Regions from separate parts of the Homo sapiens genome. Here region 2 is linked to region 1. The links come from fine-mapping of genetic effects on gene expression. A gene starts in region 1. The other region holds a variant in brackets. All regions are shown on one strand. Distances are from middle to middle. Region 1 holds the start of CMKLR1 (chemerin chemokine-like receptor 1). Region 2 overlaps CMKLR1 (chemerin chemokine-like receptor 1).

Region 1 (9,215 bases):
TCTTGCGTGGTGGCCCAGGCTGGAGTGCAGTGGTGCCATCTTGTCTCACTGCAACCTCCACCTCCTGGTTCAAGCAATTCTCCTGCCTCAGCCTCCCAAAAAGCTGGGATTACAGGCATGTGCTGCCATGCTTCGCTATTATCTTTTTTAGCAGAGATAGGGTTTCACGATGTTGGCCAGGCTGGTCTTGAACTCCTGGCCTCAAGCAATTGTCCTGCCTTGGCCTCCCAAAATGCTGGGATTATAGGCGTGAGGCACCATGCCTAGCCTGCCTGAGAATCTTTCCTGGTAATTAAGGGGTTCTTAGAAAGCATCATATCTCATTTAAAATGGGGAGTTTCACTGGGCGCGGTGGCTCACGCCTGTGTCCCAGTACTTTGGGAGGCCAAGGTGGAAGGATCACTTGAGGTCAGGAGTTCGAGACCAGCCTGGCCAACATGGCGAAACCCCATCTCTACTAAAAATACAAAACTTACCAGGTGTGATGGTGCGTGCCTATAATCCCAGCTACTTGGGAGGCTGAGGTGAGAGAATCACTTGAACCCAGGAGGCTGAGCTTGCAGTGAGCCCAGATCTTGCTACTGCACTCCAGCCTGGGCAACAGATTGAGGGAGACTCAGTCTCAAAAGAATTTTTTAAAAAAGTAAATAAATAAATAAAATGAATTCTCCAGCAGGCCAGCTTCCTGAGCATAGGGCATGGCTGTCTTGTTCACCAGCCTGTGCCTGCCACAGAGATGGGGTCCAGTAAGCATCTATTGAGCACTGAATGAACCAGAGAAGGTATATGAGTCCCCCAAGGTCACACAGCCCATCTTTGGCTGAAATAGAGGAGCTCTCATTCCCATGTGGCCTGTCTATGCCTTAAAGAAAGTCCAAAGTAGGCAGAGTTTGGACTTAGAGAGGATCCTTCATGTGGCAGGATGCATCTTTGAAGACCTCCTTTGGTTGGGAGCCTCTCTGCTGAGCCTAGTTTAGCCACTGATGATCAGGGAGGCTGGGGAAACCGTTCAGCTTTAAGTAGAGTGTTAGGAATCTGTGAACACTAAAGATCTGCCGGAAGGAGCTACCCAGTGGCTTGGGAATGAGATATAAGCTCCATTACACTAGGCACAGCCAGTACCAGGAGAGGGAGTGGTAGGGGTGGAACCAGTCCCTGCTGAACCAGTCCACCCTGCGCCAATGGGACAGAGTTTAGTTGGAGGACAGCATGGGATGAGAAAGGCAACCCTCCTCCCACTCCAGGTCCAGGGCAGGCATTGCTCACGGATCACTGAGTTCCTTGCAGCCAGGCCAGGATGTGGCCTCAGATTCCCTTTAACACAGAGCTCCAGGAATCAAGAACCAGTCAACCCGAGCTGGACCTCAAAAGGAAGCTTGACCCTCCATCCTGATTCTATGTGGAGCTGCCAGGGGTGTACACAGAGGTTCCTCTGAGGGTCCTGGAGGAGACTGCTTCTCTCTCAAGTCCCAGTATCCCCAGGTCAGCCCTTAGATTTCAAAATCCTCTTTAAAACAAAAGCATAAAAACCCCCACAAGCAACAACAAACACTTTTTGCTCCAAGAAAGAAAAGCCAAACTGTTCAGCCCTGTTCAAAAGGGATGGCCAAAGGCCCGTGGCTTCAGATTGTCCCACAGCCACCAGGTGGAGAGTCATAAGCCAGGCAGCCCCACGCCTTCCTCACTGGCCCAGTGGGGCTGTGGGTTCCCACCTCCTCTGCCAGCCACCCAGGGACCCAGCTGGCTGGGGGACCAGTGTCCTTGCTCTGCCAGTTGTGGCTCCTAGCTGATGAGACCCGAGCTTAGGTTTGGCTGGGAGGCCAGAGGCAGAGGGAGGCATGCCACAGCCACAGCCACCTCCAGGGAGGAAGAGGCATGTCCAGGAGTCCATCCCCGGGCTGGATTTACCCAGCTCCTCTTCCATAGTACCCGTGTGCTTGATCTTCCTCGAAGGCTGCCTTCTGGCCTCCTTCTCTTCTCTCCCACTCTCCCTCCTCTCCCCCACTCCTTCTTCTCCTCCCCTCTCCTTTATCTCCCTTTCCTCCCCTTCTTCTCTTTCCCCCTTCCTCCTTCTGACCCCCTCCTCCCCTTTCTTCCTCTTCCCTCCTCCTCTCCTCTTCCCTCTTTTTCCTCTTTTCATCTCCCTCCTCCCTTTCCCTCCTCCTCCTTACCCCCTCCCCCTCTTCTCCTCCTCCCTCTCCCCTCTCCTCCCCTTGACCCCTCCTCTTCCCTCCTCCTCCTCTCTTCCTCCTTCCTCCTCCTCTTTTCATCTCCTTCCTCCCTTTCCCTCCTCCTCCTTACTCCCTCCTCCTCGTCTCCTCCTCCCCCACCCTCTCCTCCTCCCCTTTCTTTCTCTTCCCTCCTCCTCCGCTCCTCTTCCCTCCTCCTCTTTTCATATCCCTCCTCCCTTTCCCTCCTCCTCCTCCCCCTCCCCTCTCCTCTACTTGGCCCCTCCTTTTTCCTCCTCCTCCTCTCCTCTTTCCCTCCTCCTCCTCTCCTTTTTCCCTCCTCCTCTTTTCCTCTCCCTCCTCCCTTTCCCTCTTCCTCCTCTTCCTCTTCCACTGTCCACAGCAGATGAGGAAACTGAGACTCCAAAGGTGAAAGGCCTTGCCCAAGTCACACAGCTTACAGTGACAGCGACAGGAATTCAAACCAGGTCCGTCTGCTATCAAAGCCTCTGTTCTTAGCCACTATTCTGTGCATTGGCAAGGTGACTTGTTCCAGGGCCCATTTCAATGGATTCCTAATTGAAATGCCTATGTCAGTGGATCTCAAACTTGAGCAAGCATCAGAATCCCCTGGAGGGCTTCTTAAAACCCAGATGGCTTCCTGGAGTCTCTGATTGCCAAGGTCTGCAGTGAGGCCCAAGGGTTTGTGTTTCTAACAAACTTCTGGGTGAGGCTGCTGGGGTTGGTATGGAAACTAGACTTTAGGAACCTCTGGTCTCTATTAGATGGTGATATACAAGATCCCTGCCACGTTATGGAAATATCCTCTCCTTTCACCAGGAGAACCTGGGGAATGACATGATTTGGCTTTGTGTCCCGACCCAAATCTCATCTTGAATTGGAATTCCATAATCCTCACGAGTCATGGGAGGGACCAGGTGGGAGGTAATTGAACATGGGGGTGGTTTTCCCCCCATCCTGTTCTCATGATAGTGAGTGAGTTCTCATGAAATCTGATGGTTTTATAAGAGGCTTCCCCCTTTGCCTGGCACTCATTGTCTCTCCTGCCACCCTGTGAAGAGGTACCTTCCATCATGATTGTAAGTTTCCTGAGGCCTCCCCTGCTATGCGAAAATGTGAGTCAATTAAACCTTTTTTCTTTATAAATTACCCAGTCTTGGGTATTTCTTCACAGCAGTGTGAGAACGGACCAATACAATTACTAACTTCTGGGTGACCTTGGGTGAGTCCCTTGCCTCCTCTGGGTTCAGTGTTCTCATCTGTACAGTAAGTGTTTCGATATGATGTTTTGTTCCCTAGATAAGCCCAAAGAAGAAGAGAGCAAGGAAGACAGTTGGGTAGACTGGGCCTGACTTCTGACTATAGAGACCTGTGTGACCTCAGGCAAGAGACTCAATCTCTCTGGGCTTCAAGTTATCTGTGAAATGGAAGAATGAAATTAGATGGTTTCTAAGTGTAAAGCTCACTGAATTAAAGGATTGAGGATGGTGGGGAGAGGTCGGTGGGGTTCTAAGGCTGATCAGACGATGAGGACATAGTCCTCCACCTGCCCAAGACTTTGAGGCCCAAAACACAGGTTTCTCTCCTTCTCTCCCTCCCTCCCCATCTCCCTCTCCCTTCACCTTCCCCTCCTCCCCATTACCTTCCTCCCTGCCCTCCCTTTTCTTCCTTTCTTTCTTCTCCTCCCTTCCCCTCTCTTCCCCTCCCCTGCCCTTCCCTTTTCTTTTTCTTTCTAAAAATATTATTTTAGGCAGTCGTAGGCAGTCTTGGCTTTGGAATCAGACAGACTCAGATCCAGCCATGGCTCGGTCAGCATGAGCTTGGCGCCCTGGGCAAAACGACTTCTGCTCTGTGGCCCTAGCATCCTCATGTGTAGAATGGGCAAGTGATGCCCCCCCGACGTGGGTGGTGGTTCACACGGCTTACTCCATGGAAGCACTTGGCACAGGGGCCCACATGGGCACTTCTGTTATTTCTTCAGTCTGGAGGCCAAGGGTGGGCCTCCGAGCCAGACAACATAGTTGGAATCCCAGCTCTGTCAGCTGCTGGCGGTGTGGTCTTGAGCAAGTGACTTAATCTCTCTGTACCCCAGTTTCCTTATTGGTAAGACTGGAGTAGTAATAATTCCTGTTATCTAGGGTTGCCGTGAAGAGTAAGTACGCATCGCCTAGCACGCTGCCTGGCTGTCGGTTGTTTTGATTATTCCACTAATGATGGTGACCACACAGCCGATGAACCAGGCACTTAGCGCCTGGTTAGGGCAGGGAACAGAATACAGTTCTTTCCCTACAGAGTTCCTGGTGCAAGGAGTTCTCGGTGCAAGGAGAGAGACATCTTAACAGGCAAGGACAGCACTGCATCAGTGAGGTGATGGGGTGACCCTGAGGGGCACAGCAGCCCCCGAGGGTTGGGGAAGGCTTCCCTGGGAGGTGACCTTCAACCTGAGACCTGAAGAGGCAGTAGGAGACCATCGGGCCACGAATTAGGGCAGGAATAGCATCCAGGTGGGAGGAACAGCGTTGCAAAGGCCCAGGGTGAGAGGCAGCCAATCTCTCGGTCAGTGTGGAGCTTGAGCCCCTCACCGGGAGCAGAGGCGCTTGCACTTCCCCCAGCAGCCGGGTGCTCAGATGTGCTCCCTGTTTGCGCTCAGTGGGCACGGCTCCCCGGCTGCAAGAGGCTGCCAGAGGGGCGGGTCGTCCCCAGCGGGCCCCCGCCGCCACCCACAAGCCCAGTCCCCGGCTGGTAGGGGCACCCTCCCCTCGCAGCCCCCTCTCCACGCAGCTAGCCGCCCCCGCCCTAGGTCAGCCCAGTTTCCTGCCCCTCCCTCCTGCTCTCCTCCCTCCAGCTGTTTCTCTGGCTGAGTTCTGTCCCAGTCCCATTCAGGGAAGCAGCCCCGGCGGCCAGCAGGGAGCTCAGGACAGAGCAGGCTCCCTGGGAAGCCTCCGGGTGATAGGGGTGTTCCAGCTGCGGCGCTCTGGGGGTTCAGAGGGGGATCTTGAATGAACAAATGAATGAACTGCTTTCTGGGCAAACAGCCACAGCCAGAGGAGCCTGTGATTGGCAGAAAGAAGCCAGGGTGTGCAAGTCTCCCCAACAGCCTCGAGTGGCCTGCAGTCACAGGGAACCCTCAGGAAGACCTTCCGGGCAGAGACCAGAGGGAAGGTATCATCACACACTTGCCTTGGGTGTCTTCTGAGGGGGGCCAGGGAAGGGGAATGAATACTAACAGAGAGAAAAGTTTGTTTCTTTTTATAATTTCATATTTGTTAAAAGGAAGAGTTTTGTTATTATTTTCAGATGTCAAAAGTAATGCATGTTCATTGTTTAAAGAAATAGCAAGGATACACAACTAAATATATGAATGTGGATTTCCACATCTAGTTTGGTAACCTGCTTAACCACAGATTGTGAACTTTTTTCCATATCACCTATATTCTTCCAATATACATTTTTCATGGCTGCATAGAAAGGCTATCTTAAGATTATTTGACTTTTCCATAATAGATTTGCTTCTTTTTTTTTATTAGAACAGTGCTGCAATGAATATTTAGTATGACATCTTTGTGTGTGTGTCTTATGAATACCTTTTAGAAATTGCTAGATTTAAGGTTTGCCTATTTTTAAGACTTCTGAGCTTTTGGTCACACTGCACCCTGGAAGGCCGTGGCAGCTTGACCTCTCTACGATGTTATACCAGGGCACAGTATTCTCACATACTAAACCCACCTTGTTGCTACCCATCCCTTAAACTTTCCCTGATGTGAAGTCGAGAATAATATCTAGATGCTTCAATAGGCATTTCATTTCTTTGTTAGTGTTGATTCTCTTTTATAAACTTATTTTTCACATTTCTAGTCTGACTCTCCTGTTCAAGTCTGTTCCCATTTTTTTCTCCTCTGGGGGCATGTTTATCTTTTTCCAATTGATATCTAAGGGTTCTTTGTATATAAAGGACACAAAACCTTTGCCGGCACTCTCTGTTGAAAATATTCCACTCCCTCCTCTGTCTTCAGAATAGCCCATTTTAAATGGGCAAGCCAGCTTTGGCAAAATTATAAGCATTACAACATCAGGGAACTACTACTTGATATAAGCCCAATCACTCAGACCTGTGCGGTTCAGAGATGCCAGATCACTGGTCTGAGGTCACACGCCTGAACGTCCAGGTTCTGAGTCTTTCTTTTTCTATTAGGGAAAGCCCTCAACTTCCCTTTTGCATCCCCTACCTCCTTCTCAAGACCAATCTTCTCTGTGGTTCTTGCTGTATCTCCTGCCCCTTCCAAACTGGTTTGAAGGTAAGATTCCTCTAAATGCCTTGGCTGCTGAGGTGAGTGTGACTGGGTCATTCAGGCCTCTGGTGCAGGAGGAGGCAGCTTGGCCTTTTCTTTAACCTAAACCAGTGGCACTCAAATGATGATGTGTCATACACTTGGGAGGTCCACAGGAGAGTTATCTCTTGATGCACAGGGGCCTTCTTTGGACTCCCCCAAAACTTCAGGGAACAGATAACCTTAACTTTGGGCAAGTCATGCCTTTCTCTGGCTTGACTTGTTCTGAGAAGTCCCCTACCCGCACTGGGTCAGGGCTTGTCTGCTAGGCTCTCCCAGGGCCTATCCCTCCCTTATCACGGCTCCTACCACACCGTGTTCTAATGACCAGTCATCTTGTCTGTCTCTCCTTCTAGCCGGGAGGCCCCTAGAGGCCAGATCTGGGATATTACTTTTTTTCTGCATCCTCAGTCCCCTGCACAAGAACTAGCATATATTAGGGTCATTGTTCATGGAATAAATAAAGTAACCAGGTGTCAGTTTCACCATCTGTAAAATGGGGTGGGGGAAGTTGGACTGAAGTCCCATCTCTTAGATGTTTACCTAATAACTCCTCTCAGTTTGCAAACCACTTTCTCGAGATGATTTTATCAAATCCTCACCATGGCCACATGATGAAGGTACTATTAACATGCCCATTTTACAGATTAGGAAACAGAAGCCTGGAGAGTTCTGATGCTAGACCTCCCCACAAAAGGGAGTAGAACATTGTGCAAGAAGGGGCACCTTGGTCTTAGGCAAGGTACTCCCACTCTCTGGCCACAATAATATCATCTGTAAATAAGGATGATATTATTTGATATTATTATCACTCTGGGGGTGGGCTTGAATTGGCCTGCCACCTGCCAACTGAGTGACATGGAATCAGTTATTCCTCATCTTTGTGCCTGAGTTTCCTCATCTATAAAATGGGAATATGATCAGTAACTGCCTCATAAGATTATTCTAAAGAGTAAATGAGATCATACAAGTAAAGCTGTAAGCAGAGGATTTGTTGTAAAATAAGGTCTCTATAAACATTAGCTATTGTTCTGATGATCATTTCTATTCCACTGTGCCTGTCTATACCTGTGACACTCATCTGAGCCAAATGGAAATTATTATTGATTTCTTTAGTGGATTATTAATGCTCTTATTCCCACTGATGTACAAGAAAACCAAAAGCTTATTTCATTCTCTTTGAGCTACACCACATGGGTGCAGACATTACCGCCAGTTGCGAGGCTATGAAGTAGACTCAGAGCTTCTCAAAGTGCAATCTCTAGACCACCTGCATTAGAATAATTGTGAGTGTTTCTTTTTTTTTTTTTTCCTGGAGATGGAGTCTCGCTCTGTCGCCCAGGCTGGAGTACAGTGGCGCAATCTTGGCTCACTGCAAGCTCTGCCTCCCGGGTTCACGCCATTCTCCTGCCTCAGCCTCCCAAGTAGCTGCGACTACAGGCACCCACCACCCCGCCCGGCTAATTTTTTGTATTTTTAGTAGAGACGGGGTTTCACCGTATTAGCCAGGATGGTCTCAATCTCCTGACCTTGTGATCCACCCACCTCGGCCTCCAAAAGTGCTGGGATTACAGGCGTGAGCCACTGCGCCCGGCCAATTGTGAGTGTTTCTTAAAGCTTCAGTTTGGAAATCAGAATCTCTGTGGATGAGGCTTCAGTGTCTGCATGTTGAACCAGCACCCCAGGTCATTCAGATGCACCCCAAAACTTGAGAACTACCAACCTAGAGTGCTTAAAAGTCTTTCCTTTTTGCCCTTTGTTCACACTGGGGTCTTGGGTTCTTTGCTGCACAATAAGGTTTCTTTTTTCCCTTCTAAGCAAATATTCATGTACTTCTGTGAATCCACATGTTCCGTGTCAGCAGTTGAGGCCAGAAGGTTTGGCAGAGAAGAAGCGAAACTTTGTCTTATAGTACCACAGAAAGTCAGATCGTGTTAGCAATCCCCCAGCATGGAGGCTTTGAAATTATTTTCAGTTGCAGAATCCTTTCCACAAATGAAAGTCTTATGGGGAAGTGTAATTTGAAAACAGATAAAGGTGGTGTTATTCTTGTTGAAACAGAGGTGGAAGACTCCAGGCTGCCACTAAATCTCACTCTTGTTGCTGAAGGGCCTCTAAGAATCTTTGTAGCTCCATGGGGCAGGCAGGAAACTGCAACTCCTCTACTCCAAGGAGTTAAGAGACCAAAGTTCTAGACATTTGTTGAGCTTACTGTGTGACCTTGGCAAGGCACTCTTACTCTTTGGCCACAATAATTTCATCTGTAAATAAGGAGGTCGAATGGTATATCAGCTAGGGTAGTAGCTGCAGTAACAAATAGGTCCCCAAAGGCATAAGGGCTGAAGCAAAGCAGAGCTTTATTATAAGGCAAGTATTTCTGAATGGAGGGTGGTCCTCTTCCTCATGGTACTTCAGTGACTCATCTGGTGGTCCCACTCTCTCCTCAGATATCCTCATTGTCTGCAGCCAGGTGCACAAGACAAAAGAAAGTATGGAGGTGGCATATTTGCTTATCTGCTTTGGCCTGGAAGCAGCAGACATGACTTCCACTCACATGAGAACTATCATGTGGCCAATCTAGTTGCAAAGGAGGCCAGGACATGGAGTTACAAGGATATGAGGTTCTTGGCAAAGAGCAGCTCTTTCCCAGCCACAGTCGTGTATTGTGGACAGGGAGAATGAATTTTTGTGGACAGCT
Region 2 (9,215 bases), 26 kb after region 1:
GGAGTGCTTAAAGCCCATTTGCTCATTATAAAAGACCAGGGCTTGAGAACTCCAGACTCTATTAAGAATATGTGGAAAATGATACACATATGTAGTTAATTGTAACATTGTAACACACACAATGATTTATTATAACATTGTAACAGCAAGAAACCGGAAGCAACTCAAGTGCCCATCCCTGGGACTAGTTAATTAAATGCTGGCAAATCTACCAATGGAATACTATGCAGCTATCAAAAAGGATAAGATGCTTTGTACATATGAATATACTAATAAGAAATCATCACCAAGAGATATTGTTAGGCAAGAAAGGCCAGTTGCAAAATAATGTGTTTAGTATACTTCCGTTTATGCAAAATGAGAGAAATGAAATGAAAAGAGAATGTATTTCTCCAAAGAAACTCTGGAAGGAGACATGAGGAACTAACATAGGGAGGTGGGTACAGTGGAAACTGGATGGATGGTGGCAGGTAGGAGCAAGATTTTTCATTCTAATCTTTCTATAGTTTTAGATGGTTTGAACATCACCAGTTAGAAGGAGTTGTGATGCCTGGTCAGCAATTTAAATTCAAAAAGCCTATTAGAATTGTGGATGGATGGCTGTTAGGCTAACAGTGTTATTATGTGAATAGTATGTGTGTTGTAAATTCTAAGGCCCGTGGTTTTCATTCCTATTTTCTCCTTGATTGTGACATAAGCACATTTGGAGTTTTCAAACTAGCTGGATTTATTGCCCAGCTGACTACGGCTTTCCTTGATGTCAGAATGAGGCCACCTTTGGCCCACTTTGAACCAGCTGAGAGAGTCCTGTGGGGTTTACACAGAGCCCACCCCTCCCTCCAGTGTCCACATCATCCTCATGACCGTGATGCACTCCTGGTGGCCTCCTGAGGCCATGGGTAGTCAATACCTATGTCTCATAGTGGACCTGCCATTTCATTCCAAGCTCTTGGTGAAATGTTTGTAGGGAAAACAATGCGTTCTTGTGGGCTCTCCTTGACACTAATAACCATGGATGAAGAGAACCTCTAGAGCACATAATGACTGAAACCCATGCTCAATGAAGAGAACTGCTTGGGATGGCTTTCAGCTCATCTTGTGTCTGCCAGGACCTTCCCAAACACTGCCTCCAGCCCACCACCAAACAGGCTGTGTGTTAAATCACACCTTTTCCTGTTAAAATCAACCAATGACATTGAGGCTGGGTACAGTGGCTCATGCCTGTATTCCCAGCCCTTTGGAAGGCTGAGGTGGGTGGATCACTTGAGTCCAGGAGTTGGAGACCAGCTTGGCCAACATGGCGAAACCCCATCTCTACAAAATACAAAAAAAATTAGTGGGGTGTGGTGGTGTATGCCTGTAGTAGTCCTAGCTACTCAGGAGGCTGAAGTGGGAGGATCACTTGAGCCCAGGGAGGTTGAGGCTGCAGTGAGCTGTGATTGAGCTCCCACTGGCGGTTCCAACCGGTGCCTGTGGCTTTCCATCCCAAAGCAAAAGCCCCACCCATTTCTGCTATGGGGTTGACACCTTGCCCGTAGCTCCCTGATCTTTGGGGATTTTGGAAATCCCCAGCACTGCCTTTCCTGTGCTTTTAAATGTATGCAAATGCAATAGCAAATGGCCCTCACCCCAGGAGGACAGCTATTCATGGGGCCCCTCCCTGCCCACACCGGGTGGCTCCATGGGGTCTTGTTAAACCTTCTCAGAGGTTGGCAGAAGACTCCTTTTAGCCTTGTCCCTTTCTTCTTGCCTCTGGGTCTCTCTTCCTGGGGACTTTCTTCACCCTGCCTTCGTCTTTCTTCTGCCACTTTGCTGCTTTGCCCTGACCGCTCTGTCCTCCTTTTTCCAGTCCCTGTGCGTCTCTCCTCTTCCTGCTGGCTTTCCTCTCCCTGCCCCTCTTCCCCCTCTCTTTCTGTCTACGTTGAGGAGGTGTCATCCTCTGTTCTCTCTGCTCTTTCTTGGCTGTGCTGCTTCTTCCTCCCTCCTAAGATCACCTATCCCGCCGAGCCCCTGCCCTGCTGGGGCCTGAAGTGAAGAGGGCTCTTCCCTCAAATTCCCTAGAGCTGAGGGGCAGGGCCAGCATCTCAGGCTGGCGACCAGTGCAGCCACACAGGGCTCAGAAGGCCTGTGCTTTGTTTAACACTTGGCAGTTGCTGTCCTGAATTCTCAGTAATTTTTGAATAAGGGGCTGCATTTTCATTTTGCAGTGACTCCATGAAGTATGCACTGTTTCTGCTGAGGATTATGAACTTCCTGGGGGGAACACATCCCCTCCTCTTAGAGCTGTAAGAGCTGGGCTGAGGCGCAGGGTCCAAGTGCTGGTCCTGCGTCTGCTCCTCACTCACCCAACAGTAAGCAGCAAGATTCATCTTCATTTTACCAATGAGATAAATCAAGGCTCAGAGAGGCCATGTCACTTGCCCAGGGACCCACAGCTCATGAGCCCGGATTGAAGGAAGCTGACTCTGAAATTTGGACATTCTGTGGTCCTTTCCTGGCTGAAACCATAGGGGCTTTGGTAAGCCACCCTTTTATCAGTGAACTAAGGCTCAGTCTTTGCATCTGGAAAATAGAGGTAGTGAAAGTAGCCATCTGTGCAGAACCAGCTGGTGTTTAAATCCTGGAAAGTTCCTGGCACATGGCTACCTCCTGAAACAGCAGCCACAGCCTTTCTGAGCCTCCATTTTCTCATCTGTCAAATGGGGATCATGGTGGTACCTGCCTCACAGGACCCTTATGGGAATTTAATGACACAGGACGTGTGCTTAGCTTAGGGCCTGGCACAAGTAGGTGGGCAAGGCTAGTACACAGGAGCTTCTAGGCCAGAGGAGGGAGTAATCTATGAGTAGGGAAACTGTAGGATTTATTGTCCTGACTGGGGCACTTTGAGAATGAAAGGAACATGACAAGAAGCATAAACAGGGATTGTTGTGGGCAAGCCAGGATGGAGGGTCACTCTACCTGTGTATCAAGTATGTCTTTGTCATGATTGTCTGTTTCATAAAATATGTTCACAGATAGGTGAGTATAAGGATGCCCCAGGCCCACCCCCAGCTGGTGTGGAGAAAGACTGTGTTTGGGCTGGGTGCAGTGGCTCACACCTGTAATCCCAGCACTTTGGGAGGCCGAGGCAGGTGGATCACCTGAGACCAGCCTGACCAACATGGAGAAACCCCATCACTGCTAAAAATACAAAATCAGCCAGGTGTGGTGGCGCATGCCTGTAATCTCAGCTACTTGGGAGGCTGAAGCAGGAGAATCGATTGAACCTGGGAGGTGGATATTGCGGTGAGCTGAGATTGCGCCATTGCACTCCAGCCTGGGCAACAAGAGCAAAACTCCGTCTCAAAAAAAAAAAAAAAAAAAACAAGGCTGTGTTCGAGCCTGGGCCATAGAGAATGATGTCCCTCGGGCTGGGCATGATGGAACATGATGGTAAGCCCAGCACTTTGGGAAGCAAAGTGGGAGGATAGCTTGAGGCCAGAAATTCAAGACCAGCTTGGGCAATATAGCAAGACCTCATCTCCAAAAATTAAAATAATAAAATTTTAAAAAGGGAGGGGGAAAAAAGAAAGAGTAGTGTCCCACTTATCACTGCTACTGCTACCAAAGCTTCAGTTCTGAAAAAACATCAGGGAGAATGACTTAAAGGCCACGGTTCAGGCCCCTTCTCAGATATTCTAGAAAATTCTTTGGATTACACCAGCAGTGCATACACCTGGATGTGTAGACTGAAACTCACAGTCATATCTAGGAAAAGCAGCTTTTACTGAATTGCAGTTTGGGGCAGTGCTGTCCATCAGTGAGTGTTTGGAGCCTCCCTTAAAACATTCAGGAACTGGAGACCCCGTTCCGTGATCAGATCCCCCATGTCTTCTCTCCACAGGCTTCTGGAGACAGTCCTTCTGCTCCTAGCATCAGGAAGCCTTACTATTCCCCTGAGTGGGTTTGGTTTTTAGCAAGGAGCATGTGACTCATGTAACTGGGTCCCCCTTTCAGGAAGCTGGGGTTCCAGTGTATGGTCCAGCCACTGTCAGTGTCTAGGAACTTCTGTGTCCCCTGCATTTCACCCTTAGCCGTGACTCCATTTTCTGTCTCTACACATGTTTCCCTTCCTTCTTTTACTTTAATTTATGTTCCCTGTATAAGTGAGCCTCTTTTGAACCTCCCACCATCCACAGCTGCATCACGCCAATAATTAAGTGAACAAAAATAAAAAATCGACAAACCTGCAAGCAAAACCATATTG[T/C]GGCACCCCTCCCCAACCCAGGAGAGCAGCTCAGTTGGCCTGGTGGGGGTCGGCTGGCAAAGGGTTAAGAATGATGCAGAGGAAGTGCTGGCGGAGATTAAAGGGAGGAAGTGGCTGCTGCCTGGGGAGGGAGGTGGCTGGCTTGTCCTGTGTGACTCCAGGGGCCTAAACCAACACTGACACGAATGTGGCAGTTTGCTCAAGGTCAGTGTAGTGAAAAAAAGGAAGAGCTTTCCAATGACTTGACAAGTCTTTCTAGAAGTTCTACTGGTGGGGGTTTCAAACTCACTGATAGCTGACTCCAGACATAGCTCTCTTTAAACATAACAGCCAAAGGGCATGTTTGTTTGAGCCAGTCTCTTCATGTTCATAGAGTGACCAGCGGGCCCTGATTGGCTGGGACATTCCAGTTTGAGCACTTTACATTCTGCATCCCAGGACACCCCTTGGTTTCTGGCAAACCAGGACAACTGGTCACCCTATGCACCCTACGTATATGATCTCATGAAATCTTTACATTGACCCCCTTTACAGACGAGGAGTCTGTGATTTAGTAATCCAAGATTACATAGCATGGGAAGGGCCAAGCTGGGATTCACATGTGGATTTGCTGTAACTGAGTGAGGCTTAAGCTGTCAGCTGCACTGAGCCACTTCCCTTTTCCTGTAAGATGAGGGTGTGAGACCCCTTGATCCTAAAGCCTCTCTAGCAATGACTTTTAGGATTCTAGAATTTCCTCTGGTCTTCGAGCAGCTTTTTGTTTTCCATGGAAGGTGGGGTGGGGTAGGGTGGGGGGCAATTTTTCCAGCAAGACCCCTCCTAGGTCAAGGCTTGGGCTTTGCCTTGGGAGAGGTGACAGCCTGGTGACAGGGTCAAAAGGAAGGGCAGCCTGCCCCTCCTTCCCTGTGCCTGGGAACAGGGTGGGATCTCATACTCCACCGTCCTGATTGCTGGCAGTGGTGCCAGTCCATTTGTCAGCTGCTTGGGCTGGAGCCAGGGAATTCCAAGGGGCCAGAGCCTGCCTGAGCACTCCAAGGCCTCTGTGCTCGTGGCTGGCAGCCTAGGCAGGAGGACCCTGGGGCAGCTCAGGGCTCTGGGATTTTTCAAAGCTCCATGTGGCTGGACAGGCCTCTACAGACTCCCTGCCCTGGGAGTCTGGCCAGCCTGTGGAGACTGTGCAGAGGGGGGTGATTTGGAGTCTCTAAGTACCCCAAGTCAGTGAGGTAGCATTGTGAATGTGCAAGGTGCGGAAGTTGCACAGGTGGGGACAACTGATATGAGATCACAGGGCCCCGTGTGCAGCAGGCAAGCCACAGAACATAAAGGACAGTGACCGTCACTGAAGACCTGGACTCCAGAGTCAGGCAGTGCAGATTCAGATCTCTCCTCTGCCCCTTCCTACTGTGAGATCTTGGGCCAGTGCCCTTGCTTCTCTATGGCTTGATTTCCACATCTGAAAAATGGGAATGAAAATATCTACCTCGAAGGTTTGTTGTGAGTGGAGGCACTGAGTATGCCGTCTGTGCCTAATAAGCAGGGGGTGGATTCCATGAGCCCCAGACTCTCAGTTTTGGTTCCTCTCACCCCATAGCTGCACCCCAGGACCCTGTGACAGGCAGTGGGTGAGGGCTCTTCCCCATGGAGAAGCCGTGCTGGTAGGCTGTAAGGGAAGTCCTAGGGAGAGGAAGGAATGCTGCCTGGACACGTTTCACAGTCTTGTGATGAAAGGGGCCTGTCAGCCCATCCACGATGCTTGGAAATGCTGTGATAAGGGCATAGATGCTTTGAGTTCTCACAGATCTGAGTTCAAGTCCTGGTTCCACTGGGCACTGGCTGGCGATCCTGATCTGGTTCCTTTTACAGCCTCAGTTTCAACATCTGTGAAATGGAGGTAATGTCCTCAGGCCAGGGGGAAGATGGATTGTCAGGACACAAGGAGATGAGGGGGTGTCAAGCTCACAGCTAGGTGCCTGGCACGTAACAGGATGGGTCTCTTTCCTCTTGTCACCTTGCTGTTTGCTCTGCCTGGATTTGTGCACATGAGGCTGGGAGAAGCAAGGGGATGCTTGTGGAAAGCACACCCCAGGCAGAGGGACCTGCAAGAGCAGAGGCCCAGGTGCTTTGAACCATGCTCGGGGTACTGGGCTCCTTAAGCACAGGGAGCAGGTTGGTTTGGAAGGACTTGGCCTCTGAGGTCCCCCCAGCAGTCCTTCCGTGCCCCCAGCCTGGGGCTTCCCATGAGTCCTGCAGCCCTGTCCTGGGTCAGGGGTCGCTGACTTCACTTGGGTTGTCCAAGGGGAAGGGAGGCTAATGCCCATGCTCAGTGGCCCACCCTTCCTCCTGTTGCCTCTTGCCTCCACCAGCTCTCCCCCTCTATGCTGCCTTTTCCCCTTAGCGTCCTTTCCCTGGCACTTTTTTTCTTTTTAGGAGGCAAAGTCTTGCTCTGTCACCCAGGCTGGAGCGCAGTGGTGCAATCATAGCTCACTGCAGCCTCGACTTCCTGGGCTCAAGCGAGCCTCCCACCTTAGCCTCCTGAGTAGCTGGGACTAAAAGGTGTGTGTCACCACACTTGGCTAAATTTTTAAATTAAAATTTTTTCCCCTAGAGGCAGGGTCTCTCTATGATGCCCAAGCTGGTGTTGTACTCCTGGCTATAAGTGACCCTCCCGCCTCAGCCTCCCAAAGTGCTGGGATTACAGGCATGAGCCACTGTGCCCAGTCTCCCTAGCACTTTTAAGTGTTAATATCTCACACGCACACATACACACATTCATGTCAACCACTAACTGGATCTGACATAGTAGGAATGGTTTTGGCATCTGAGCCCCAGTCCTGACGCCATTTTGCTGTATAACTGTGGCCAAAAACCTCCTTTGTGTGTGGGCCTCTGCTTCTCCATCGTCATCACGACATTGACTTCAGTTCACTGGGGAAAAGTTGAAAGCAGGACCCTGATGGTGGAATTGAAGGCATAGCAGCAGTGTGTATCTGGCATCAATTTGCAGTGGGGGATGCCTTTCCAGAACCCCAGCACCAGACCCCAGAGACTGCTGACTGCTCCTTCATCTGCACCCTGCTCATCTCCTGGGCGGGGGGTGGGGGGGCGGTCTTCGAACTTACCTGCCTCACACACGTGTCCTGGGATGTGCCTCCCTGGTGAGCTGCAGGTTCTGGCTGCCCCTCAGCACTGCCTCCCTCCTGTCTCTGCCTACCCGCCTTGCTGAAAGGCCCTGGGTCCATGAGGCCCGGGGATGGGGGACTCGGTGTTACCATGGCAACCATAGCTTATCTGTGGCATCATGGACTCCGGGGGAAGATGGCTCCCAGCCCCCAGGACTGGACAGTATGGGCCCTTCTCTGTGACCTGGCTTTTCCCGTGAAGACCCATCTGAGTATCTCTGGTCCTCACTCCTCCGCTCACTCAAGACCTTTCTTGGAGCATTGGTGGTTGCCATGGAAATGGCTCTGGAAGCAAACCAGTCCCTGTGGGCTGAGGAAAAATCCTTAAGAAAAATAAAGAGATTGCTTGGCTTCCTGGCTCTCTGATGGGACATCCTGATGCCTGGAGCCTCCAAAAACTGCACTTTCTGGGTAGGCCTGGAACTGGCAGAAGGATCCTCAGTTCACCAGGCCTCTTGCTATTCTCCTGCCTCCAGCCTTTCCTCTTCCAACGCAGTGCCCACATCAGCCACCCAGGTTAGAAGCTGGAATCTTTTTAGAAGGATGATACCCTCTGCTTAAAACCATCCATGGCTCCCTATTGCCCATAGGATAAAGTTGATGGCTTGCAGGGATCTCACAATCTGAAACCCTCTTCTTTCCTTAGCCACATCTCCTGCCTTCTCCCCTCCCCTAACACACACACACACACACACACACACACACACACAGCCCCTAACCACACTTTTTCAAGCCTCTGTTCCTCTGCAGGTATGTCATTTCCCTCGGCTGCTCCACCTGGCAAAGGCTTCATACCCTCCAAGGCTCAGCTCAAATGCCACCTCCTCCAGGAAGCATCCCCTGATTTCCCCAGCCCTTTCTCTTTACTTTGTGCAGAGCCAGGGCCACACACTCAGTGACCAACAGGGCCAGGCAGGAGACCCAAATGACCCATTTATGAACATTTTTCATGTCCACAAAGACATACGTGCTCTCCTATGAAAGCTGAAAATGAGAATGACTTGGTTCCTCTTTCTCTCACTGGATTGCACTTATTTCTGCCACAGCAGAGACCCTGGACAAACTCAATGGCAAATTGCAACTGGCTTATTACCCCAGGGAACAATAGGGAGGGGTGGGGACTGTGGATAACCCCTGTTCTGTAATGCAAGCCCAGCATGGCCAGTTTGCTGGAAGCCTGGAATTTAGGTGACATCTCAGAATACTGACTGTGCCACGATCTGTTCCTGCAACCACTTTCTCTGCATGAAGGTAGTGACTGGGCCATCTTACTCCCACAGCATTTGGCAAGGAGTGTGACCCTTAGACGTTGCCCACTACTGGCTTTTTTTTTTTTTGGAGATGGAGGTCTCACCCTGTCACCCAGGTTGGAGTGTAGTGGTGCAATCATAGCTCACTGCAGCCCTAAGCTGCTGGGCTCAAGCGATCCTCCTGCCTTTGCATCTGCTGTTCCCACTGCCTACCATGCTCTTCCACAGCACCAGCCCATGTCTCCCTCTCTGTGTATTCAGGTCTCCATTCAAAGGTGGAACAGGGCATAAATGCTGGGGGAGGGGAATTCTATGTTAGGGAGAGCGTTCCAAGAAGCTTCTCTGAGAAGATGACCCTCTTTGTATTTTATTCACAGCACAAATCACTGCCTGCTATTATATTCATTGTATTTTTTCAGCATTTACATAGAGCTTCCGATGAACCAGGCATGCTTCTAAAACATTACCAACATAAACCCATTACCAACATTCAATCCTTGCAACAACTCTGTGAGGGAGGAGCAATGATCACTCCTA

Evidence for each region. PIP is the estimated chance that this variant, and not a neighbour inherited with it, causes the effect.
Region 2: its variant is fine-mapped to the expression of CMKLR1 in monocytes (Quach 2016, PIP 0.93).

Annotation. Positions count from the first base shown.
Region 1 is chr12:108,335,163-108,344,377 of GRCh38, reverse strand. CMKLR1 (chemerin chemokine-like receptor 1) reads left to right here and starts at 5,067. Exons shown (of 4, transcript NM_001142343.2): 1 at 5,067-5,351. RefSeq lists a silencer at 4,784-4,903 and an enhancer at 5,011-5,634.
Region 2 is chr12:108,309,087-108,318,301 of GRCh38, reverse strand. All of the region lies in intron 2 of CMKLR1 (chemerin chemokine-like receptor 1), which reads left to right. Among named protein-coding and RNA genes, the nearest start is that of CMKLR1, 26 kb to the left of the region's middle. RefSeq lists an enhancer at 1,242-1,760 and silencers at 1,476-1,770, 1,876-2,170. The variant T/C (reference allele first, on the strand shown) is at 4,250.